Homo sapiens: one gene and its partners. The protein of the gene in region 1 purifies or fractionates together with the protein of each later gene. This does not show direct contact. Each region holds a gene or a part of one and is shown in the gene's direction. Other genes may lie near its edges.

Region 1 (3,500 bases):
GAGATTGCACCACTGCCCCCCAGCCTGCATGACAGAGCGAGACTCCATCTCAAAAAAAAAAAAAAAAGAAAGAAAATAAATGCTCACTGAGAGTGACAGCACATCACAAGTGGGATCAGGGCAGTGTCCAAAGGAGCTGGGAGGGCTCTCAGGAGGAAGGGCAGAGACCTGTGGCACAGAGGGCTTGGACTGAAAGCAGAAAGCCTGGCAGATGGGAAAACAGGGTTATTCATTTATTTTTTGAGACAGAGTCACACTCCCGAGTAGCTGGGATTACAGGCGTGCACTAGCATGCCTGGCTAATTTTTGTATTTTTCGTAGAGGTGGGGTTTCAACCACGTTGGTCAGGCTGGTCTCAAACTCCTGATCTCAGGTGATCCACCCACCTCGGTCTCCCGGAATGCTAGGATTACAGGTGTGAGCCACCACGCCCGGCCAGAAAACAGAGTATTTTTGGGTGAAGTAGTGCCAAGAACCAAAAGTCGCTCCTGCTTGCTGTCATCCCTGTACTCCTGTGTCCACTCTTACCCCTGCACCCCCAGGCATGTCCTCACTCTTAGATCTTAATGGTCTCTTAGGGAGTCATGAGCCTGGGATGCGTCTGCTGCTTGTGACTCACATGCTTGTTTGGCCAGTCTCTTGAAATTCTCTCCATCCTTGGCCTCTTTTATCCTGATAATTCTCACCTTCCTCAGCCTGTTTTCACTTCCTGTCTCATACATTTAGGAGTATTCCAGAGTTCTTTTTTTGTTTTTATTCATGCTATTGGAAGTTCAGAACTTAAACTTTGTCTTTCTTTTTTTTCTTTTCTTTTCTTTTCCTCCCCTCCCCTCCCCTCCCTCCCTCCTTTCCTTCCTTCCTTCCTTCCTTCCTTCCTTCCTTCCTTCCTTCCTTCCTTCCTTCCTTCCTTCCTTCGAGACAGAGTCTCACTGTGTTGCCTAGGCCGAAGTGCAGTGGCACAATCACGGCTCACTGCAGCCTCAATCTCCTAGGCTCCAGAAATCCTCCCATCTCAGCCTCCCAAGTAGCTGGGACTACAGGCAAACACCATCGTGCCTGGCTTTTTTTTTTTTTTTTTTTGGAGAAATGAGGTCTCACTTTGTTGCCCAGGCTAGTCTCGAACTCCTGGATTCAAGCAATCCTGCCTCAACCTCCCAAAGTGCTGGGTTTACCCTGTTCTCACTTTATACCTTCATTTCTATGACTTCAGAATAGCATCCACATTTCAGCGATCCCAGATCTAGATCTCTAGTTCTCAGCTTCCTCCTGAGCTCAGACCACTATTTCAAACTCACACCTGCACCTTCCCAATCCTTCCAACCAGAAATATTCCACAGCTATCTCCAACCTGACTCAATATCTTCTCGGATCCTCTCCCTACCCCACCACACCCACCCTTGAAAAACCTGTTCCTCCTCTCCCACAGTCACTTATTTTGGGCACTCCTTTCTTTCTTTTTTCTTTTCTTTTCTTTTTTTTTTTTTTGAGACAAAGTCTTGCTCTGTTGCCCAGGCTGGAGTGCAGTGGTGCTATCTTGGCTCACTGCAACCTCTGCCCCCTGGGTTTAAGCGATTCTCCTGCCTCAGCCTCCCAAGTAGCTGGGACTACAGGCGCATGCCACCACGCCCGGCTAATTTTTGTATTTTCAGTAGAGATGGGGTTTCACTATGTTGGCCAGGCTAGTCTCAAACTCCTGACCTCAGGTGATCCACCTGCCTTGGCCTCCCAAAGTGCTGGGATTACAGGCGTGAGCAACTGTGCCTGGCCTTTTTTTTTTTTTTTTTTTTTTTTGAGATAGAGTCAGGGTGGAGTGCAGTGGTGTGATCTCAGCTCACTGCAGCCTCCACCTCTCCTGGGTTCAAGCAATTCTTCTGCCTTAGCCTCCTGAGTAGCTGGGATTGCAGGAATGTGCCACCACGCCCGGCTAATTTTTGTATTTTTAGTAGAGATGGGGTTTCACCATGTTGGCCAGACTGGTCTCAAACTTCTGACCTCTAGTGATCCACCTGCCTCACCCTCCCAAAGTGCTGGGATTACAGGCGTGAGCCACTGTGCCTGGCCTCAACTCTATTCTTTCCCTTCCCTTTCCTGCCCTGTAGTCTTTCCATTCCCAGGCCAACCCAGAGAGTTGCTGAGCCTGTGGGATTGATGTGAGGAAGGTCTCTGAAGTCCCTCTTGTTCCTCTTCTCCATCCCCAGCTGCTGTCCCTCAATTTGGTCCTCACTTCACCCATGTTGACAGTTGTGTCCTAGCCAGTCTTCCCGCTGTTGTCCTACCATGCTGTTGCACTCCCTTCACTGCTGATAGAATGATCATGTCACCCCTGACTGCAAATCTCTAGTTGTTCCCCGTTGCCTGTAGAGCAACATCCAAAGTCCCACAATCTGGCCCCACCCTCTTCAGACTGGTTCCCTGATACTCCAGACTCTTCTCTCCACACACCCCTCCACAGCCTCCATAACCTTCTCTCTTCTGAACACATGCAAGCTCTTTTTAAAGATTCTCGGCCAGGTGCGGTGGCTCAAGCCTGTAATCCCAGCACTTTGGGAGGCCAAGGCGGACGGATCACAAGGTCAGGAGATCAAGACCATCCTGGCTAACACGGTGAAACCCTGTCCCTACTAAAAATACAAAAAATTAGCTGGGCATGGTGGCACACACCTGTAATCCTAGCTACTCAGGAGGCTGAGGCAGGAGAATCACTTGAACCTGGGAAGCGGATGTTGCAGTGAACTGAGATCACGCCACTGCACTCCAGCCTGGACGACAGAGTGAGACTCCGTCTCAAAAATATATACATATATAAAATAAATAAATAAATAAAGATCCTGTGGCTTTGCAAGTGTGGTTCTTGCCTTCCTCTTTACTGTTTGCTAGGTTTCTTTCATCTCTCAAGATCCAACTCAGATTCCAGCTCAGTAGAGCCTTCCCTGACTCTCCCAGACAGCTTAATTACTCTCTCCTCTATGATCACACTGTGTCTCACCCTGTGTCTGCCCTCACCCTGTTACAGTGCTGATCATGTGCCATCACCTCTTGCCCTGGCTTCTGTGTGATTCTCTGTACTATTTGCTTCTCAAAGGCAGGAATCAAGGTTCTTTCTTGGTTTCCCTAGCCCAGTGCTTGGCATGGAATGGTTTGTGTATGGAGAGACTACACAGAGGTGCGAGGAGATAGTAAGTGTCCCATTTTGAGGGTAGATTCCTTTAGAGGATTGGTGCCAGGTCCTGGAAGGCCTTGAATGCCCGGCCAGGTGACTCAGACTTGCTTTTCTGAAGGGTTCCACACATTGCAGCCGGTGGCAGGAAGCGAGGCCTGAGTGTACCTTGCTCACTTACTGTTTTTTTTTTTTTTGGAGATGGGGTCTGTCTCTGTCACCCAGGCCAGGGTGCAGTAGCGCAATCATGGCTCACTGCAGCCTCGACCTCCTGGGCTCAGGCAGTTCTCCTGCCTCAGCCTCCAGTGTAGCTGGGACCACAGGTACCCACGACGAGACCTGG
Region 2 (2,244 bases), on another chromosome or scaffold:
AACATAGACTTGTCTTCAGAAATAAGACTGAAGGGTTTTGTTGTTCCTTAGAGTTTTCGTGTTACATCACCTAAAGAGATTTCTTTTAAAAACTTTCTAGACTCTTTGCAAAATGTATATTACTAACATAGTTTGGAAGAAAAATTGAGTAGTGGTAAGTTTTGTTCAAGCACAATGTTGAATGTTAAGCTTCCTGTATTAATTTTAGTTCAGTTAATGGTTCAGCCCATACAAAGGTGCTATCCTAGGGATTTTATGAATTCCTGAAAGGAAAATAGAATATGATCAATTCCTTGCCCTGTGGAAGAGTGCAGAACTGTGGTTTTGTTTTCCTTTGACTTCTGTAAAATGTGACCGTTTGACATCTGTGGTAGATTGAACGGAATATCACAGCTGCTGAGTTTACTCCATAGCTTTCAAACCTTTTTTATTTTAAGAAATTCTTGAAAAACCCTATGTTCCATGGGAACATAAAGTTATTATAGTGCCTCCTAAGGGGTTAATATAAATCAAGGAGGAAGTTTATATTTAAGGAAGAATTGGAGTGACGTATCTTAGAAAAGGAAAGGCTGATGTTTCCATATAGCTTGCTCTCCACCAGGCCTATCATTTTTCTTTTTAGAGACAAACGTGACAGGCTAGTCTTGTCTCTCTCATATGCTAGGTAGCAAATGGGGTGATATTTTTATAGAAGTGGGCAAAAATTATTTTCTCAATTTTACTGAGTAGGCACAGAAGAAAAGTACAGATAGGCTGATGGTTATTGCCTTATTTTGACTGCATTTCTCTTAAATGGATCATTTAAATTAGTTCTTCAAGTAACAGTTTACTGGTTGTTCCATTCCTGAATATGCAGGCTAATTTGTACAGATAGGGATTAAGGAATACAGACTATTAGAGAAGATCCTTATATTTACATCTAGTATATATGTGGTAAGGAAATGCCGATTCTTCATTATAAACAAGTTTTAAAATTGTTCTTTCTTAGTTCAAATGATAGCAATACCCCTATAGCATTAGGTAGAAACAAATTATTCATTACATCGTAAATCTCTTTACTATGTCCTAGCTCTGTCCTGCTACCTAAAGGATATAAAGAAATACTATTGCTCTAGAATGTATTACTTTGTTCTCCCATGAAAGAATTCAGTTTGTTAGTACCTATATTTTTAAACTGGTGAAACTGACCCAAATATGTAATAAATACCATAGTAGCTCAGACCCAAGGAGATATTTTTCTAAAATCAGTTTTCGTTAAAGTACTTCTACTTCCGTTATTGGATATGGTATCTCCTAAAGTGTAAAAAAAATCTGTTACTATATAGTGATAAACCATCTGCTCATCGTAAGTGTAAGGCTTAACAAATAAGTAATACATGCTATATTTATTCAAGTGTCTATTGCTTAATTGTTAATTGTGAGCAGATTTATTGAATGCCTATTCTATTTTCTGCAGTTTACAATACAATAACTCTTTGAGTAAGTTGAAGTTTAATTGTGCAACAAATTTGTATTAGAGTACAATTTAAAGTGTTTTTCTCTATAGCCTTTTTTGACTGGGGAAGCAAGGGGTAATGTTAATTAGTACACTTTGTTCTTGTACTAGCTATGTTTCTATAAGATATGGTGCCCTGTGTATCCCAGAGATGCTAGAAAACTGTTCTTTGCTCCTATTTGTGGGTTCTGTTTTTGTGGGTTTTTTTTTTTGAGAAAATGTACACAATAAAACATTCCTTGCTTGTTACTGTGTTTGCCTAATATCACTTTTGTTGTAGTCAGCCTGGACGTAGGGCAATAACAGTAGCAACCATTTATTCAGCACCCTCTGTGTGCTGGGTGCTTTCACTACATTATCTTACTCAATCCTGGCAACACTTGGGCAAGGCATCATTCCTCCCATTTTACAGATGAGAAAACCAAGAGAATGTGTGTTATTAAGTCTGCCTTTCTGTCTTGAAAACACATGCCTTCTTCCTGCCTCTGGCCTGAATGTGCTAGCATGTCATTTGTGCTGTCTGTAAGGGTGGTGGGTATTACTGTCTCTGCCGCTTGAGGTAGCAGTCAGCATAGTGCAGGATATTTAGGCGCTCTGACTACACAGAGCTATCTAGTGATAACAAGATCAAGCTCTACTTCTCCTCAGCAGCTCAGTTTTGTGAGTGAACACGTGTGGTTCAGACCCAGAAGAACTGATACCTCAACTAAACCAGAGATTGATTTAGAAACCAGAAAGGCAGTGAATAG
Region 3 (3,500 bases), on another chromosome or scaffold:
TCTGGGAGGTGGAGGTAGCAGTGAGCTGAGATTGTGCCACTGCACTCCTGCCTGGGTGACAGATCCAGACTAGGAGATAAGATACAGAAGATAATTCATTTGCAGAAGGGATATTAGTATTGAACGAAAACCTAGAAAAAGGACTTCTTACCCACTGGGACTTTTAAGTTTATTTTTGAGGGTTCTGTGTAACTGGTGTGCAGAATTGCATCAAAGCTGCATGTTTTCTTTTCTCCTAGGTGTTCTATTACTCAACAGGAATCTTCAAGGATGCAGGTGTTCAAGAGCCCATCTATGCCACCATCGGCGCGGGTGTGGTTAATACTATCTTCACTGTAGTTTCTGTAAGTTGGATGGTTTGGTAATTTTGAGGGGAGAAAAGAATCCTTGCTACAGATGTTCAAAGATGGATTGCATGACCCTACCATCATTTAGTTACCTTTTTGTTGCTTAATTTTCCTTTGGGAAAAAGAGATAAATTTAATGTTGGATGTAGTCTTCACTCTTCAAGCAAATATGGGATGGATGGGAAAGGAGGGAGTATAGAAGGGACTATATAGTATGCTTTGAACTTGGAATTGGAGGAAAGGTGCTTGGAAAAACTCTCAAGCTCTGTTACTCCACTGTTTTTACACTAAAACAACAATAATCAACAGAAGTTATCTGTGATCCCCAGAATATGTGAGAATTTTTCCCCGTGAGGTGTGCAATCAGTTCCGTAGTGGACACCATCTAGGTGTCCTGCGATTTTTTAATTATGACACTGTCTACCTGGAGATAGCATCAGATCTCACAGGTTGGTGGCCCAGTTCCCAAGACTGCCCCCCACTCCTGATGCCAGTCACAAGCTCCAGGTTGTTTTACCTGTGCTTCTGACTCACCAGCTGTAGATCAGGATTCCCACGACATCCTCTTTGGGTTTGATTAATTTGCTACAGTGGCTCACAAAACTCAGGAAAATTGTTTCCTAGTTTGATTTAAAGGATATTTTAAAGCACAGAAATACACAACCAGATGAAGAGATTCACGGGGCGAGGTCTGGAGGGATCCTGAGCATGGGAGCTTCTGTCTCTGTGGGGTTGGGGTGCACTCCTAGCACATAGATGAGTTGTTGCTGACCTTCCTGTCAGCTTCCACGGGTTCAGATATCTGGAAGCTCCCCATACCCTGCCTTTTGGGCCTTTTATGCAGACTTAATTGGTTCTCCATGATTGAAGCATGGACAACTGTTCTGACCTGTGATTGGACAAAAAGGGAATGATCTGAACCCAGCTGGGCCTGTCTGCTTAGATGATTTGTTGGCCTCTCTGTAGCGTTTCTTCCTCTAGGGTGTGGGGCAGGACCCTCTCTGAAATGAGGGTTTTATGACCCACAGTCAGATTAGCGTCCTGCCAAGTGGGAGGGCAGGAGAAAGTCAGAGAAGAATTCTGTTATCTGAGGCCTGCTCCTGAGGCCTGAAGCATCCCAACATTATGACAAAAGACTCTACCAAGGGCTATGGGGATTTTGAGCCAGGACCTGTGAATGGCACACAATATGTATGTATATAAAATCATAAATCACAGGAGGGGTATCCATAACAAGTGTCCTGCTGTTGGTAAGGCAGATTTCAAGTAGCTCAGATGCTGTTTTCATGGAAAGGAAAACTGAAGTTTCATGTCATATTCTTCTTCCAGCTATTTCTGGTGGAAAGGGCAGGAAGAAGGACTCTGCATATGATAGGCCTTGGAGGGATGGCTTTTTGTTCCACGCTCATGACTGTTTCTTTGTTATTAAAGGTAGGTGCTCTTTGGGTGAAAAAAAAGGGAGGGGGAAAGAAGAGAGGTTACAGTTGACTTCTGTGACACAAGGGGTGGGTTGTTAAGGTTGCAGTTTGTCAATAAAGTCAGAGGAGAGAAGCAGGATGCCCAGAGTTTAAGAAACATGGGTCGTCAGAGAACTGGAGGTAAACTGTTAGAATCCTTACATTTATAGAACATTATTATAGCTTATAAAATAAATTATCTAATTTAATTCTTAGAATAATATCAAGGTAATCACACTTAATAGATGATGACATGGTCTCAGTACAAAGTGACATATATGAGATCATATAGATGGGATTGAAAAATTCAATCCTCAGCTGGGCGCGGTGGCTCACGCCTGTAATCCCAGCACACTGGGAGGGTGAGGCAGGCGGATCACCTGATGTCGAGAGTTCAAGACCAGCCTGACCAACATGGAGAAACCCCGTCTCTATTAAAAATAGAAAATTAGCCAGGAGTGGTGGTGCATGCCTCTAATGTCAGCTACTTGGGAGGCTGAGGCAGGAGAATTGCTTGAACCCAGGAGGCAGAGGTTGTGGTAAGTTGAGATGGTGCCATTGCACTCCAGCCTGAGCGACAAGAGCGAAACTCTCTCTCAAAAAAAAAAAAAAAAATCCAATCCTGGCTGGGCGCAGTGGTTCATGCCTGTCATCACAACACTTTGGAAGGCCAAGGTTAGAGGATTGCTTGAGCCCAGAAGTTCAAGACCAGCCTACGCAACATGGCAAGAAACTTTCTCTACAAAAAAACAAAAAAAAATTTTTTTTTTGAGACAGGGTTTCACTCTGTCACCAGGCTGGAGAGCAGTGGCAGGATCTCAGCTCACTGCAACCTCTGCCTCCTGGGCTTAAGTGTTTCTGCTGCCTCAGCCTCCCAGGTAGCTGGGATTATAGGCACGTGCCACCACGCTCAGCTAATTTTTGTACTTCTTAGTAGAGACTGTGTTTCACCATGTTAGCCAGGCTGGTCTCCAACTCTTGACCTCAGATAATCCACCTGCCTTGGCGTGAGCCACAGCTCCTGGCCAAAAAAAAAATTTTTTTTTAATTAGGCAGGTGTGGTGGCACATGCTTCAAGTCCAAGCGATTTGAGAGGCTGAGGTGGGAGGATTGCTTATGCCCAGGAGATCGATGATGCAGTGAGCTATTGTAGTGCCACTGCCCTCCAGCATGGGCAACAGAGTAAGACCCTGTCTCAAAAAATAAAAATAAAAATAAATCCAAGCCTTTTGACTCCACAGCCACTCTTTGTATTGTACGTCAGGGACAGGAGGAGCTTGCCGTTAATTGCTTCTGGGAACCTAGATACTAGGTTACACTGTCTTTAAATTTAATTTTCTCTGTTCCTTGCTCTTACAGGATAACTATAATGGGATGAGCTTTGTCTGTATTGGGGCTATCTTGGTCTTTGTAGCCTTCTTTGAAATTGGACCAGGCCCCATTCCCTGGTTTATTGTGGCCGAACTCTTCAGCCAGGGCCCCCGCCCAGCTGCGATGGCAGTGGCCGGCTGCTCCAACTGGACCTCCAACTTCCTAGTCGGATTGCTCTTCCCCTCCGCTGCTGTAAGTAAACTCACCTTATCTTAAAACCAGCCTATGTAAGCTGACATGAAGATACTCCTTAATAATACAGTAGTCTGGGCCTGGCATGGTGGCTCATGCCTGTAATCCTAGCACTGTGGGAGGCTGAGGCGGG
Region 4 (3,500 bases), on another chromosome or scaffold:
CACTTGGTTAGGTTTGGATCGGATCCTGCCTATCAGATGAGATGATTTCTCTCTGGGGTTGGAGTGAGCATTAAAATAGCTTTGCCTGGCATATTTCTCCTTGGGAGGCACTTGATAATGTTACATGTTGGGGTCTTCCCTCTGTACCCTGGCCCAAGTAGGTAAATCCAGCCTATGTGTGTGTTATGGCCCCTGGTCCCGAAGCAGGGGGTGGGGCGTGGGACTCAGGGGCCTTTCCAGTCTTGGCATTAACCAGGAGGCTCACGGTTTTGTCTCCCTCCACAGCCTGGACGTGTCTCCTCAGGTAGAATCTGACCCAGCTGCTCTTCCTCACCACCTCCCCTGCTCCCCCTGGGCTCCGGCCCCTCCCACTCCTGCTCCCACTGCTGCTCCCATGCTAAGCACTAACCTTTTTGCAGCCGCCTCCCCCGCTGCTGCCACTGCTGCCGCTGCCGCCACCACCGCCGCCCCTGAAGCCACCCCACCTGGATTATTGGGTCTTACCAACCCGTTCCTCACCTCTTTGCAGAGCAACCCCTTCTTCGAGGAGCTCATAGCCGACATAGCACTAAACTCTCCTTCACCTGCTCCCTCTCTCCCCAGTGCCTCGAGGGCCAGCCCCACCCCCCTGGCCTCCCCTGGGAAAGCCCTGCCTGAGTGGGACAACACCTTCAACGTCTTTGCTGCCAGCAGGCTGCGTCCAGAGGCCAGGAGCGAGATCCTGGCCCCTGCAGGAGTGGGGCTGGAGGCGGCAGGGCTGCAAGACCCAGGCCCTGGGGCCATGACTGCGAAGGCAGCTGAGCCCCAGGGAGAGCCTGGGGGAGGAGGAGGAGGAGGAGGAGGAGGAGGAGGAAGAGGTGGGAGCAGCGTGTGGCTGGAGCCCAGGGTTCCTCTGGACTTGGGACCGAACCACCAGAGCGCGAGCGCGGCTGACCCAGGGCTCCTCGGGTCGGTAGGGGCTGGCCTGCCCTCCTCGTCAGCCCAGCTACAGCTGAGAGCCTCAGGCTCAGAACCAGACAGGGAACTGCCAGCCCCGGAAGTGGAAGCAGGGCAGAGTCCGGCAGACAGTGGGACATCTCTATTTAGCTCCCCAGAAGTGATCAGTGTGTGGGAGAGGCTGCCGGGCCCAGAGAGCGCTGCTGAGGGCCAGGACGATGAGTCCTCCCGAGGCGAAAATCAGCTTTGCCCTGACGTCGAGACAGCTGATGATGCCTGGCCTTGGGATGTGGTCACCATTTCTCCTGCAGCTGAGACAGCCTCACTAGTCTTTCGGGGAGAGTCTGATGAGCCTGCTCCCCAGGTGCAGCCTGAATCACCAGAAACTGTGAGCCCCAAGGGGAGCGAGGGGCTTCCCCCACCGGAGCCCGAGCCTAAACCCGAGTGGGTGTCTGACAAGGGGCTGCAGCCCAGCACCCCACCTCCCAAGCCACCGCGCCTCTTCACACCCTCAAGATCCCAGGAGGAGGAGGAGGAGAAGGCCGCAGTGGGGCTGAGTAACAGGGGGCCGGAGACAGAGGGAGAAGATGCCTCCCCAAGTGCACTGGTTGTCGGTCCCCCGGAGACCAAGGAGGAGGGAGAGAAGCGTGAGTCGGAGGAGTCTGACAGCTGCTCCTCTGCAACCCTGCTGGGCCAGCCTGGCCTGGAAGAGCTAGTGGAGGATGCCAGCCCCCCTGTGTCTGGGCCCTGCCTGTCTGCACCCGCCAGCTGCCCTGAGGGTCCTGCCCCCATACCCTGTCACTCAAAGAGCTTGGCTCTTCAGAGTCAGCACATCTGGGGGACTCCAGAGGTTGGAGAAGGCCCTGAGGCTCCTGAGGCCCAGGGCCAGGATCCAGTAGGAGAGGGGCTTGGGTCCTTGTCAGCCACCTCCCAGCAGGCTGATGTGTGGGTCTCCAAGGAAGATGCCTTGAACCCCTTCTTGTTTCAGGGGAGCCGAGATCCTCCCAGCCTCTCATCTGCATCCCCGCCAGGGTCGAGGGAATCTTCTATTCATTCTGGTCCAGAAGAGCTGCCCACTCCCCCAGAGCCTGACTTTCCACCGCCCCCTCTCCCGCCTTGGGCCAGCCACCACCGTGGGGGGCCCAGCCCTCCATGCTCTCCCCTGTCTGAAGCCTGGCCCCTGACTACCTCCTCTGCACCACCAGGGGAGCCAGCCTTACTCCCTGGCCCCCATGAGCCCTCCCCACCTGGGGGCTCCCCTGCCCTACTTAGGGAGGACCTCGCTGCAGCCACCCCAGCCTCCCCGCTTGTGCTTCTGCCCTTGGAGACACGACCAGCTGAGGAGCCACAGCCCAGTGCCAGGTGAGCATCCACCCCCAGAACACTGTCCAGGAGGAAGGGGGTGGACAGGGGGCAGAACAGCCCAAGGGACTGAGGGGTTCACACTCCAGTCTCATCCTTTGTGGGGCAGGTGAGGGTCTCTTTTACCCCAGAGGCAAGACGGTACAGGCTTTGAAGACAGGAGCTTTCTATGGTACCACCTCTGAAGCTGCTGTCTTGGGACTTGGGATAATCAAGGCAGCCCCCCACAAGCCAGGGGTTTGGAGAACAGCACTGATGAGGTGCAGGGTATAAGGAATGAAGTGGGGAGAGCCGATGTGGGCTGGCAGGGAAGGAGAGCAGTGCTGTAGGCCCTTCTGGAGTGTGTGCACTCAGCCGCAGGGGAGCTGTGGGTGGGGGGCGGTGGAACTTGTCAATCAGGGGGTAGTTCTTGGGGCAGACCGTGGCAGAGCAGGCTGGCAGTGGAGCCTTGAGCAGTTTCCTATTCTGCTAGAGTGAGGGTGCAGGCTGGGGAAGGCAGAGAGCCAGAGGAGGGACCAGCACTTAGGTCAGAGAGAAAGCTGCAGACACCTTCAGAAGAAAAAGGAAAACTCAAACACTTCCCACATATGTAACTCTCAGAAGAAAGGTTCCCCACGCGCAGCAGTTGCTTCATTGGTTTGCGTTTGGTGCCTTTTAAGGGGTGGTTCTGATGCACTTAGGACCGCTGAGTGGACAGCGGATGCCTGTGTGACTGTGCTCACTGTGGCATTGGGAGGTTTGGAAGAATTATGAAGCTGTGACCTCACCAGGTGGCTGGTCAGGGGTGATGTGGGCAGAGGCCTGGAGACTCAGGGCACTGGGAGGTGATGGGGTGTGACTTAGAAGGCAGCAAGTCCCTCTGGGACGATAGCGCTCTAGGAGGACCGAGTGAAGGGAGGGGAGAGCAGGGCAGGCTCCAGCACTGGCCTCCCGACCAGGCATTCATGTTTGGTCATCCACATTCACTGAGCACCTACTATGTGTCAGATGCTGAACAGATGAAAGACACTGTCTCCACTCTGTTCCCAAGGAATGTCCAATCCACTGGGGAAGATAAAGTGGACCCAAGAAGGGAAGAAACCCCAAGGGGCCAGAACTACATATGGGAAGTGGGTGGGAGGGAGTCCAGGCTGCCCCCAGTGTCCCTCCCTGGTGGTGGTGGTGACTCTCCTCCCTTGAGGTGAGGGAGAGGATGTGGGGGA
Region 5 (3,500 bases), on another chromosome or scaffold:
GTAACATGACTGAAAATTATTAGTGTAAGGTGAGGTTAGTATAAGGTGATAGGAAGTTGTCTGTGAAATTCTTGAGAGCTCTTTGAATTTATAACCAAAAGAACTGAATTTGTCTGTTCATTTTACAATCTGTTACAAGGCATTTGGATTGAAAGGATGGAAAGATGGCCGTAGGAAACAAGTAGCTTACTATGTAGGAGGTAGGTACACAAATAACTAATTATTATACAATCCATTTAATAAGCCCTGTACAAAAGGTATCTATATCTATCTATCTATCTATATATATATATCTATATCTATATATATATATATATCTATATATATATATATATATCTATATATAGATATATATATATCTATATATATATATATATATACTGTCACATGACTCAGGGAGGGACATCTCATTGTATATTGATAGGAATGGTACCAGGGAAAGTTTCAGAGATTTTGCCAATAGATGGGGGTGGAGAGTGGGAGGAAGGGTGGAGGGGGCAGTATTGATAGAGCATCCATTTCACATTCTGTATTACCACAAAGTTGTTGGATGGTATTGAGCAAGTCACTTAATGTTTCCGATTCTAAGTTTTTTTAATCAGTAAAATGGGGTTGTTAATACTTACCTAACAGGATTGTTTTAAAGATTAAAGAAGAAAGGATTATTCAAGTAATATCTGTTAAATGTTTTCAGTTGTAAAGCTTTTTACAGTGTATTATTTCTTTGAAAATCAGCTTATTCCATTTTTAGACAGCTATAGTAGTTAAAAGTTCTTTAGTACATTATGCTGATGTCTGTCTTAGAAATGTAAAAATCCTACTTTTCTTATTGCAGACATTCAAATGTCACTGTCCTTACATATACGTAAATCATATGTACCTATTCAGGCTATAGTTTTTTAAAAATAGTAGTTTAAAAGGGGATTAGGGATTTGTCTCATATGAAGTGTAATGAATAGAATGAATATGGTAGGAAAGACGGTTTAGATAAGGATTAAGAAGTAAAAGGCAAATAGTTTCTTTTTTTCTCTGTAAATCATTATTATAGTTTAGTAATTCTATTTAGTACATTGGTAAATGGTAGTACAAAAAAACAGGTTAAGTCTAGACCTTAGACTCTGAGACAGAATCTTAAAAGATTTGTAATCTGAAGTAAGTATGATGCTTCAGTGTCTTCGTATTTTTTCTTTCTAATGCTTTTTTGGGGGTTAACTCTGAAATGAAAAGATCTGACAGTAATTATGTGGAATTGGTCAATAGTGCCAGGAACTGATCTGTATATACCCCTGGGACACAGTAAGGGTCAGTTGAGACTAGTAAACTTATGCATATTTAAAACTTGTGAACAAGTGAAGTGTTTTTTGTTTTGTGTTTTTTTTTGGTGGGGGCAGCATTTCTTAAGCAATTTATTCTAAAAGATAATCTATTTCTATTAAATTTAGTTTTTAAAATGTGTTTTGACATCAGTTTCCAATTTTAGATACAGCTGTTGGACATGATATTCAGTAAAATAACACAACCTTACTATTTTCAAGGCATTGTTTAATATTGTTGGAATTTGAGGTGGGTGGAAAATGGCATTCAGAAAATTATTTCATGAAATAAATGGGACATATGCTAGGACTTAAAAATCTTGAAATTGTTAAGCTTCTACAGTATTTGCAATGGATTTTGGCTGCTATTTAGCAGTATAAATTAAGAAGCTAAGATCTTAGAGAAATTTTAGCAAAAATTCAGTAACCATTAAATCATCCCCGTAATTTTACTATATCTCCCCTCCAGACAGTTCACCAAACTGTGAACACATTAGTCTGTCACCAGTACAGTTGACTAATCTTTATGAACAGCTGTTATAACATGCGTTACTACAATGGGATTTCATTCAAATTTGGGCTTTAAAAAATAATTTTAAAACTTAAGTTAGCTCTTTCTTTCTTTTCTTTCTTATGTGTCTGTCTGTCTTTATTTTGATGGAGTCTCTGTCATCCAGGCCGGAGTGCAGTGGCGTGATCTCAGTTCACTGTAACCTCTGCCTCCCGGGTTCAAGCAATTCTCCTGCCTCAGCCTCCCGAGTAGCTGGGATTACAGGTGCTCACCACCACGCCTGGCTAATTTTTGTGTTTTTAGTAGAGACGAGTTTCACCATGTTGGCCAGGCTGGTCTCAAACTCCTGACCTTAGGTGATCTGCCCACTTAGGCCTCCCAAAGTGCTGGGATTATAGGTGTGAAGCCACCGCGCCTGGCCCCTTTAAGCATTTTCTATGCTTTTGATGACATATACTTTCTAAGAGTGTTTTCAAGCTTAAACTTTTTTTTTTTTTGTAGAAATGCCAGTTATGTAGAAAATCGATATTCACATTTTAGATTGTATGTTTTATTAATAGTTTTTTTGAAGTTAGTTTGTTTATACTAAGAACTTTCAAGTTTAACAAAAATCAGTCTTGCATGGTAACACATCTCTTGGTCTGTACTTATTTTCTCTCTTAAGGCAAACTGCAAAGCTATGTTCCTTTTAATGGAATATTATGAGGTAATGAAGTATTATAAAATATTTTATATTGTATAAAAGGAATTTTGATCTTTTAAATTTAGTATACAATATTTTTGGTCATGTAGGAGAAAAAAGAATACAAGCACTTTTAAGTAGACTCTATTTTAATCTATTAGTCTCATGTCATTTATTTTTTGTAAGTAAATAAACAATACCAAAATGTATTCTTTTATGTATCTTTACTCATATATTCCATGTCCACCCTTTTCATGACTGTGTTATGGCATGATAGAATGAAATGGCCTTATTAACCTGGCAGGATGGTGGATATTGATCAAAGGGTTATCGTGATATTTTAAAGGCTTGTTTTTTAGAATAAGGTAAATATACCATAGCATACTGTTTGATTTCAGTATGTAAGATAATCCTGAACATCAAGATTTTGACATGTATTTGTTTTTGCATGGCATACATATAGATGATGCTATAAAGACTGAGTTGAAGATTTCTGTTTGATTCTATAAGTCCCAACATGATCTGGTCCTTGCTTCACTCTCCAGATTCCCTTACCGCAAGTCATTTCCCCATTCATTTCACTGCAGCTGCTTTGGTCTTTTATTCATTTCTGAGAAGATACTTTCAGGCTTTTCATGTGCCTGAACTGCCCCATCTCCAGTCTGCTTAATATTAAACTCATCCTTTAGGTCTCAGCCTGGGTGGAGATCACTTAGGTTAAATAATCAATCTTAACATTATTTTTCCAGCATAATGTTGGCTTCTGGAATGCTCTTATGTAATATATAAACCGTTACCTTTATAAAATCTGAAAAATTCTTAAACAGATGATAAATAAGCAAAAACAAAAACAGAAACAAAAACAAAACAAAAAATAAACCCAAAAAAACCACCCCAAACTAATAAAGTTTAACTTCAACAAAAGGATATTGGCTTGAGGGAGGTTGTGTTAATCTATCTTTTGAATTCATTTTGACTGTTGTAAAGATAATTA
Region 6 (3,457 bases), on another chromosome or scaffold:
GAAGAAAAGGACAACAGGAAGAACAACATGAACAGGTCCAACACCATCCAATCTGGTCCAGAAGACAGCCTGGTCAACTCTCAGTCTTTAAAGTCCATTCCTGAGAAGTTTGTAGTTGATAAATCCACTGCAGGGGCTCTGGATAAAAAGGAAGGTGAGCAGGCTAAGGCCTTATTTGAGAAGGTGAAGAAGTTCAGGCTGCATGTGGAAGAAGGTGATATTCTATATGCCATGTATGTTCGCCAGACTGTACTTAAAGTTATCAAATTCCTAATCATCATTGCATATAATAGTGCTCTGGTTTCCAAGGTCCAGTTTACAGTGGACTGTAATGTGGACATTCAGGACATGACTGGATATAAAAACTTTTCTTGCAATCATACCATGGCACACTTGTTCTCAAAACTGTCCTTTTGCTATCTGTGCTTTGTTAGTATCTATGGATTGACGTGCCTTTATACCTTATACTGGCTGTTCTACCGTTCTCTACGGGAATATTCCTTTGAGTATGTCCGTCAGGAGACTGGAATTGATGATATTCCAGATGTGAAAAATGACTTTGCTTTTATGCTTCATATGATAGATCAGTATGACCCTCTCTATTCCAAGAGATTTGCAGTGTTCCTGTCTGAAGTCAGTGAAAACAAATTAAAGCAGCTGAACTTAAATAACGAATGGACTCCTGATAAACTGAGGCAGAAGCTACAGACAAATGCCCATAATCGACTGGAATTGCCTCTTATCATGCTCTCTGGCCTTCCAGACACTGTTTTTGAAATCACAGAGTTGCAATCTCTAAAACTTGAAATCATTAAGAACGTAATGATACCAGCCACCATTGCACAGCTAGACAATCTTCAAGAGCTCTCTCTGCACCAGTGTTCTGTCAAAATCCACAGTGCGGCGCTCTCTTTCCTGAAGGAAAACCTCAAGGTCTTGAGCGTCAAGTTTGATGACATGAGGGAACTCCCCCCCTGGATGTATGGGCTCCGAAATCTGGAAGAGCTGTACCTAGTTGGCTCTCTAAGTCATGATATTTCCAGAAATGTCACCCTTGAGTCTCTGCGGGATCTCAAAAGCCTTAAAATTCTCTCTATCAAAAGCAACGTTTCCAAAATCCCTCAGGCAGTGGTTGATGTTTCCAGCCATCTCCAGAAGATGTGCATACATAATGATGGCACCAAGCTGGTGATGCTCAACAACTTAAAGAAGATGACCAATCTGACAGAGCTGGAGCTGGTCCACTGTGACCTGGAGCGTATTCCTCATGCTGTGTTCAGCCTACTCAGCCTCCAGGAATTGGACCTGAAGGAAAACAATCTGAAATCTATAGAAGAAATCGTTAGCTTTCAGCACTTAAGAAAGTTGACAGTGCTAAAACTGTGGCATAACAGCATCACCTACATCCCAGAGCATATAAAGAAACTCACCAGCCTGGAACGCCTGTCCTTTAGTCACAATAAAATAGAGGTGCTGCCTTCCCACCTCTTCCTATGCAACAAGATCCGATACTTGGACTTATCGTACAATGACATTCGATTTATCCCCCCTGAAATTGGAGTTCTACAAAGTTTACAGTATTTTTCCATCACATGTAACAAAGTGGAAAGCCTTCCAGATGAACTCTACTTCTGCAAGAAACTTAAAACTCTGAAGATTGGAAAAAACAGCCTATCTGTACTTTCACCGAAAATTGGAAATTTGCTATTTCTTTCCTACTTAGATGTAAAAGGTAATCACTTTGAAATCCTCCCTCCTGAACTGGGTGACTGTCGGGCTCTGAAGCGAGCTGGTTTAGTTGTAGAAGATGCTCTGTTTGAAACTCTGCCTTCTGACGTCCGGGAGCAAATGAAAACAGAATAACTTATTTTTCGTTAAAGTTTGACTGAAACACGCTTCTACCAAATACAGTATAAATAATTAGGTAGTCTTAATGCCTTTCCTATTTTTTTTTCCTTTTCACACAAAATGTACACAAAGATCGCGTAAGGAGTATGTATTTTTAATAAAAATTTAATTGTATTTTTTCAATATTAATATTTTGAAGTTTTATTTGTCTTGAAACACAATGTATCTATTATCTACTGACAGAAAGAGATAGTTCCATTTGGTTTTTTGTTTTTGTTTTTTAGTTCATTCTTGTGGAAAGGAGGGAATTATAAGTTGCATGCTTTTTGGCATTTTTTAAATAGAGGAAGATATTTTGCCAAGGCCATTTTTAACTTGTTTACACCTGTACAGGGTTCTTATTTTTGTTTTCATTGTGTGTGTATCAAGGAATCTGTGCTAGTTATTTTAATACCAGCTGTCTTCTCCATTGGCCAAGACCTTCATTCAGTGGAACTTCACATAAGTGCATTGTCATAGAGTATTTTAAATGTTCCCCTGCCTCCAACAAAACCCTAAACTGTGTTATTTCATATACCTGACAGTTATTGTTATCCTTAGGCAAGGTTTTTGTGAGTGAAGAAAATAATCTTTAGTGGCTGGTATGTTTGAATTAGGCCTTTATCATTTAACTTATTTGCATTTTACCAACATTTTAAAAATATTTAAAACCTAAATACAGAGGCTCCTCCCACCTTAATCTCAATACTGCTATGTAGTACTGGTGAACAACTTTGGAGAACCTAGATTTATTTTAATATTCTAATAGATAATTAAATTTTAAAATGATAGAAGCCTGGTTTTTGAGTAATTTAATCATCTTTCATATCTTGATATGCAGCTGCATCAGATGGAAAAAAATTTACTAAAGCACCCTGTTAAAGAGCTGGTGTGCTCCAGTGAGGCCCTCTCCTTTTCTCAGCACAGTGTGGCAGTGGTAATCTATTCAAATTTTGCCTGTTACACAAAATAATCCACTTATATATACAGTCAGCCTTCCGTACTTGTGGGTTCTGCATCTGTGGATTCCACCAACTGTAGATGGAAAATACTCAAAAAGAAAGTTGTGTCTGTACTGAATATGTACAGACTTTTTCCTTGTCATTATTCCCTAAACAATACAGCGTAACAACTATTTAAATAGGATTTACATTGTTTTAGGTATTATAAATTACCTAGAGATGATTTAAAGTATATGGGAGGATGTGCATAGGTTATATGCAATTTCTGCACCATTTTATGTCAAGGATTTTGAACATCCTCAGATTTTGGTGTTCGAGGGCATCCTGGAATCAATTCCCCATGATACCGAGGGATGACTGGATATTAATCGATTTCCCTCAAGCCTGCCCTTGCTGTGAACTAGTGCTACAAGCACGGGAAATCCATCTGCTCTCTGGCTTAAAATATGTATCTCATCTAAAATTGTTCGTTAAAGTGTGAATAAATTGCTAAGTGGTTGTTGCTTAGCAATAATTTTTGCCTGACCATCAGCAGAGCTTTTATTTACCTTTGTAATTAAAATCCAACATAGCATGGGCTCTTGGGCAAAATATTTCACTGACTATTA
Region 7 (4,286 bases), on another chromosome or scaffold:
GCCCGGGAGGGGGTTCCTCAGCCTCCCGCTTCCCTCAACACCCTGCGACCCCCGCCCCAGCCTGCCCAGGTTTCCTGCTCCCAGCACAGCAGGTGCAGCCAGCCATGTGCACAAAGGCCAGGCTGGTTCCCTGGGCTGCACTCGAGCAGCTCCTCCCAGCCCTGCACACATGGGGCAGCAGCTCTACCCAACCTCTCCCAGGGGTTCTGGGGAGGAGGGAGCAGGGGAGGGGGCGGGGAGGGCCCAGAGAAGGGACAGTAGTGCCCTGGGGGCCCCTGGGCAACCCAGACATGGAGGGGGGGGCAAGCTTGTGCCTGGCCACCTATGCCAGTGCCACCAGGTGCTGGGGGGGACACGGAAAGGACAGGAATCTTGCCCTCACCTGGCTCCCGAGCCAGGGGCCGGGGCACCCTGTGAGGACACTCAGAGGGAGGGAGTGTGCAAAGCCTGCAGGGCCTGGGAGGATGCGTGCTGGGGCTGCCTCTCCCAAATCCTGCTGGGGCGCAGGCTCTCAGGGTGGCTTCTGATGACAAATCCAGGCAGTAATAAGGGGCCCAGGGCATCACATCCCATAGCGTCATGAGACCAGCCCAGGGTGCCAGATGCAGGGCCCTGAGTGGGGAGGGTGCTGCTCTGGGCACCTGCTTTCTGCCCTCCCTCATTCACCCCTCCCCAGACTTTGATGAAACCATCTGTGGCTCCCGGCCTCTGCAGGACCCAGCCCCTCAGCTCCTCAGCCCCTGCAGGTGTCCCTCGGTACTGCCTCACGCCATCCTGCCCCAGGTGATAACTATGCCCTGAGCCCCCACCATTTCCACTGGGCACATCCCAGAAATACGCATTCACAGACCAGGCACGCCCATGACTGCGGCCAGATTTTAAAAGGAATCACCAGAAATGTAATCTCCAGTGGTCCTAGAGCCCCCTGGGCACCCAGCTTCTGGCACCCTGTGGACACCCAGGAGTGGGGGTCGGCCCAACCAGCTGCGCAGCCGCCCAGCCCTGCCAGCGGGGAGCTTCCTCCCTCCCTGCCCTCCGGATACACCCTCACCCCAACTGAGCGAGCCCAGGGTTGGGGGAGGTGCATAGTTCCCTTCCTAGCCGGTGCGAGAAATTGCGGAGAACAGGGAAGAGGGTGGCAGGAAGGGTCTGGTGCACGATACCCGCCGCGCCCGCTCGGAATCCTGGTTCCCTGGAGCGCTCACCCCAGCCCGCCCTGCCCCGGGGAGCGCGAGGGGGCGACCCGCCAGGCTGCACCCGGGCGGGGCGGGGATGGCGGCGGGGGCTGCCTCCCTCCTCCGCCGCCACCCCCCACTGCTGGGCGCGCCGCGCGGCCGCCGGCTCCGTGGAGACGCGCAGAGCCGGGAGGGCGCGGGCGCGGCGGGAGGTGTGCGGGGCTGGGGTGCGCGGAGAGCGCGAGGGAGGAGATTCTGAGCGAGGGAGGGGAGCGCGCCCGGGCAGCAGTGCGTGCGCTCCTCCCGGCGCCACAAGCTCGCCCCGCGCAGCCCGAGCCGGGCTGGGCGCTGTCCTCGGGGGCCTGGGGAACCGCGCGGTTTGGAGATCGGAGGCACCTGGAACCCGTGGCAAGCGCCGAGCCGGGAGACAGCCCGAGGAACCACGGGTTCTGGAGCTAGGAGCCGGAAGCTGGGAGTCCGGAGGAGAGCGGAGCCCGGAGCCCGGAGCCCGGGGCGGCGCGTCTGGGTCTGGCGCTTCCCGACTGGACGGCGCGCCCGCTGGTCTTCGCCACGCGCCCTCCCCTGGGCTCCCGTTCATCGGTCCCCGCCTGAGACGCGCCCACTCCTGCCCGGACTTCCAGCCCCGGAGGCGCCGGACAGAGCCGCGGACTCCAGCGCCCACCATGCGCCTCAACAGCTCCGCGCCGGGAACCCCGGGCACGCCGGCCGCCGACCCCTTCCAGCGGGCGCAGGCCGGACTGGAGGAGGCGCTGCTGGCCCCGGGCTTCGGCAACGCTTCGGGCAACGCGTCGGAGCGCGTCCTGGCGGCACCCAGCAGCGAGCTGGACGTGAACACCGACATCTACTCCAAGGTGCTGGTGACCGCCGTGTACCTGGCGCTCTTCGTGGTGGGCACGGTGGGCAACACGGTGACGGCGTTCACGCTGGCGCGGAAGAAGTCGCTGCAGAGCCTGCAGAGCACGGTGCATTACCACCTGGGCAGCCTGGCGCTGTCCGACCTGCTCACCCTGCTGCTGGCCATGCCCGTGGAGCTGTACAACTTCATCTGGGTGCACCACCCCTGGGCCTTCGGCGACGCCGGCTGCCGCGGCTACTACTTCCTGCGCGACGCCTGCACCTACGCCACGGCCCTCAACGTGGCCAGCCTGAGTGTGGAGCGCTACCTGGCCATCTGCCACCCCTTCAAGGCCAAGACCCTCATGTCCCGAAGCCGCACCAAGAAGTTCATCAGCGCCATCTGGCTCGCCTCGGCCCTGCTGGCGGTGCCTATGCTGTTCACCATGGGCGAGCAGAACCGCAGCGCCGACGGCCAGCACGCCGGCGGCCTGGTGTGCACCCCCACCATCCACACTGCCACCGTCAAGGTCGTCATACAGGTGAGCCTCAGTAACCAGCCCCGGGGCTCCCCTCTCCTTCACCCCAAAAGCAGTGCCAGTGGTGTGCCTTCTGGGTAGGGAGTGGGAGAGATGTCACAGAGACAGTCTACTCCTGCGAGGCTGGGAAGGCGGTTGGGGCAGCTTGGGGGCAGCTCCAGAGTTGCCAGGCTCAGCCCCTATCTTCTTCCCTCCTGTTGAGGGGATGGAGCCCCTGCCTGTGACCTCTCTGGTGTTGGTGGCTGGGCCTCGGACATCTCTGAATTCCTTAAGCCTAATGGAAACATGTGCGCTGGCACCTGCGTCTCCAAAGGAAGAGTAACACTTTCATCAGCTTCTCAAAAGACTGTGCCACCAACAGGTGATGTTCCTTCCTCTGCAGAGAAGCCCCCAGACTGGCTCTGCCGGTGCCTCCCAGCTGCCTGCCCTGACCCAAACTTGGGAGTCAGAACAGAACCTGATGCCGTGTTGGGCCAGTTCCTAGTTTAGCCTCAGCTTTCCCATCTGTGTGATGGGGTAGTGATAGCATTGACCTCAGAAGGTAGAGCATTGGAGAGAGGACGCGTGGGAAGTGTTTGCATGGCCCCTGACACATAGAAGGGCTCACAGGCACTATTATTGCGGGATGGTGGGGACGATGTTTCTGCGGGGAAGGTTGTGAGGATCTGCGTGTGGCGGCGGTGTTGTGGTGAGGTGTGTAAAACTGGAGCCGAGTGACTAAGGGCCCTCCAAGGGTCTGAGCAAAGCGCCGTGGGAATGCGGGTGGGAAGCCCCCTTGGGAATCAGTTTGGCTGAGGTTCGTGGCACGGGGGGTTCCAGTGCTGGAGGGGAGGGCTGATCAAACCAAAGCCCCGAGCAGGAGGCTGGTGTCCAGGGAGGAAGTCAGGGCCGGTCGGGAACTTTGAAAGGCATCTTGGAAATGAGCAGCCTTAGAAGTGTGGGGTTTCCTCCATTTCTGGTGGGCTAAGGAAGCCAGAGGGTGAAGGATCCGGGCAGAGTCGCCTACCTCTGCCCAGCTAGAGGGGCCAGGGTGGCTGGCTGTCCCCCCAACTCCCCACACACCAGCATCGCCAGCCTCCCAGCTAAGCTTCTGTAGTTGCCTGGGCACCCCGCGTATGCCAGTATGCCCGGTGGGGGTGAGGGCAGCAGTGCCGGGCAGGGGGTCACCTGTCTGTCACTCCCTGGGCCCTAACTGACCCTCCACTGGCCACCACCCAGGTGGGCTGGGGGGTGGAGGAGGGTAGAACTGAGCTCCCAGTCTCCCTGGCTGCACATAGAACTGGTGGCTACAGGTGTCCCATCTCGGGGAGGCCCCTCCCACAGACACTGGTGGCAGGCAGTGAGTCAGGGCTGCTTTGCTTCTGCGGCGAGAGTCCCTCCCCTCACCAGAGGCAGAAGTAGGCACGGCCTGTGGGGTAAACACAGTGAGAAATGACCTCTCCCTCCCTTTGAGGCTTTATCTGCTCTCCCCAAGCTCCTGTCTTTGATTGGCATTGGCCAGGGGGAACCTCTCCCCAGTCCGCGTGGAGGGGCCCCAGGGGCGACAGCCACTCAGTCCTTCAGAAGGTGGGCAGTGGAGGGGTCAGCGCTGTCACTGCCCACCCAGGAGATGCCCCCACTCAGACCCCGGATCCCCCCACTCAGACCCCCGATCCCCCCGCTCAGATCCCCGATCCCCCCGCTCAGAACCCCGATCCCCCTGCTCCCCTGGCAAAAG

What was found.
Region 2: the proteins of SCAMP2 (region 1) and WDFY1 purify together in Homo sapiens (affinity purification with mass spectrometry; one large-scale study listed by BioGRID and IntAct). This does not show direct contact.
Region 3: the proteins of SCAMP2 (region 1) and SLC2A3 fractionate together in Homo sapiens (co-fractionation; one large-scale study listed by BioGRID). This does not show direct contact.
Region 4: the proteins of SCAMP2 (region 1) and RAB11FIP5 purify together in Homo sapiens (affinity purification with mass spectrometry; one large-scale study listed by BioGRID and IntAct). This does not show direct contact.
Region 5: the proteins of SCAMP2 (region 1) and DIPK2A purify together in Homo sapiens (co-immunoprecipitation; one study listed by IntAct). This does not show direct contact.
Region 6: the proteins of SCAMP2 (region 1) and LRRC8C purify together in Homo sapiens (affinity purification with mass spectrometry; one large-scale study listed by BioGRID and IntAct). This does not show direct contact.
Region 7: the proteins of SCAMP2 (region 1) and NTSR1 purify together in Homo sapiens (affinity purification with mass spectrometry; one large-scale study listed by BioGRID and IntAct). This does not show direct contact.

Annotation. Positions count from the first base shown.
Region 1 is NC_000015.10:74,863,366-74,866,865, reverse strand, and holds part of SCAMP2 (secretory carrier-associated membrane protein 2), read left to right. Parts: intron 1-3,500. UniProt on the Homo sapiens protein: Functions in post-Golgi recycling pathways. Acts as a recycling carrier to the cell surface.
Region 2 is NC_000002.12:223,874,848-223,877,091, reverse strand, and holds the end of WDFY1 (WD repeat and FYVE domain-containing protein 1), read left to right. Parts: 3' UTR 1-1,744; downstream 1,745-2,244. UniProt on the Homo sapiens protein: Positively regulates TLR3- and TLR4-mediated signaling pathways by bridging the interaction between TLR3 or TLR4 and TICAM1.
Region 3 is NC_000012.12:7,922,688-7,926,187, reverse strand, and holds part of SLC2A3 (solute carrier family 2, facilitated glucose transporter member 3), read left to right. Parts: intron 1-239; coding exon 240-344; intron 345-1,676; coding exon 1,677-1,778; intron 1,779-3,163; coding exon 3,164-3,367; intron 3,368-3,500. UniProt on the Homo sapiens protein: Facilitative glucose transporter. Can also mediate the uptake of various other monosaccharides across the cell membrane. Mediates the uptake of glucose, 2-deoxyglucose, galactose, mannose, xylose and fucose, and probably also dehydroascorbate.
Region 4 is NC_000002.12:73,078,449-73,081,948, reverse strand, and holds part of RAB11FIP5 (rab11 family-interacting protein 5), read left to right. Parts: intron 1-285; coding exon 286-2,298; intron 2,299-3,500. UniProt on the Homo sapiens protein: Rab effector involved in protein trafficking from apical recycling endosomes to the apical plasma membrane. Involved in insulin granule exocytosis. May regulate V-ATPase intracellular transport in response to extracellular acidosis.
Region 5 is NC_000003.12:143,978,323-143,981,822, forward strand, and holds part of DIPK2A (divergent protein kinase domain 2A isoform a precursor), read left to right. Parts: intron 1-3,500. UniProt on the Homo sapiens protein: May play a role in cardiomyocyte proliferation through paracrine signaling and activation of the PPI3K-AKT-CDK7 signaling cascade.
Region 6 is NC_000001.11:89,713,120-89,716,576, forward strand, and holds part of LRRC8C (volume-regulated anion channel subunit LRRC8C), read left to right. Parts: coding exon 1-1,863; 3' UTR 1,864-3,457. UniProt on the Homo sapiens protein: Non-essential component of the volume-regulated anion channel (VRAC, also named VSOAC channel), an anion channel required to maintain a constant cell volume in response to extracellular or intracellular osmotic changes.
Region 7 is NC_000020.11:62,707,350-62,711,635, forward strand, and holds the start of NTSR1 (neurotensin receptor type 1), read left to right. Parts: upstream 1-1,486; 5' UTR 1,487-1,858; coding exon 1,859-2,572; intron 2,573-4,286. UniProt on the Homo sapiens protein: G-protein coupled receptor for the tridecapeptide neurotensin (NTS). Signaling is effected via G proteins that activate a phosphatidylinositol-calcium second messenger system.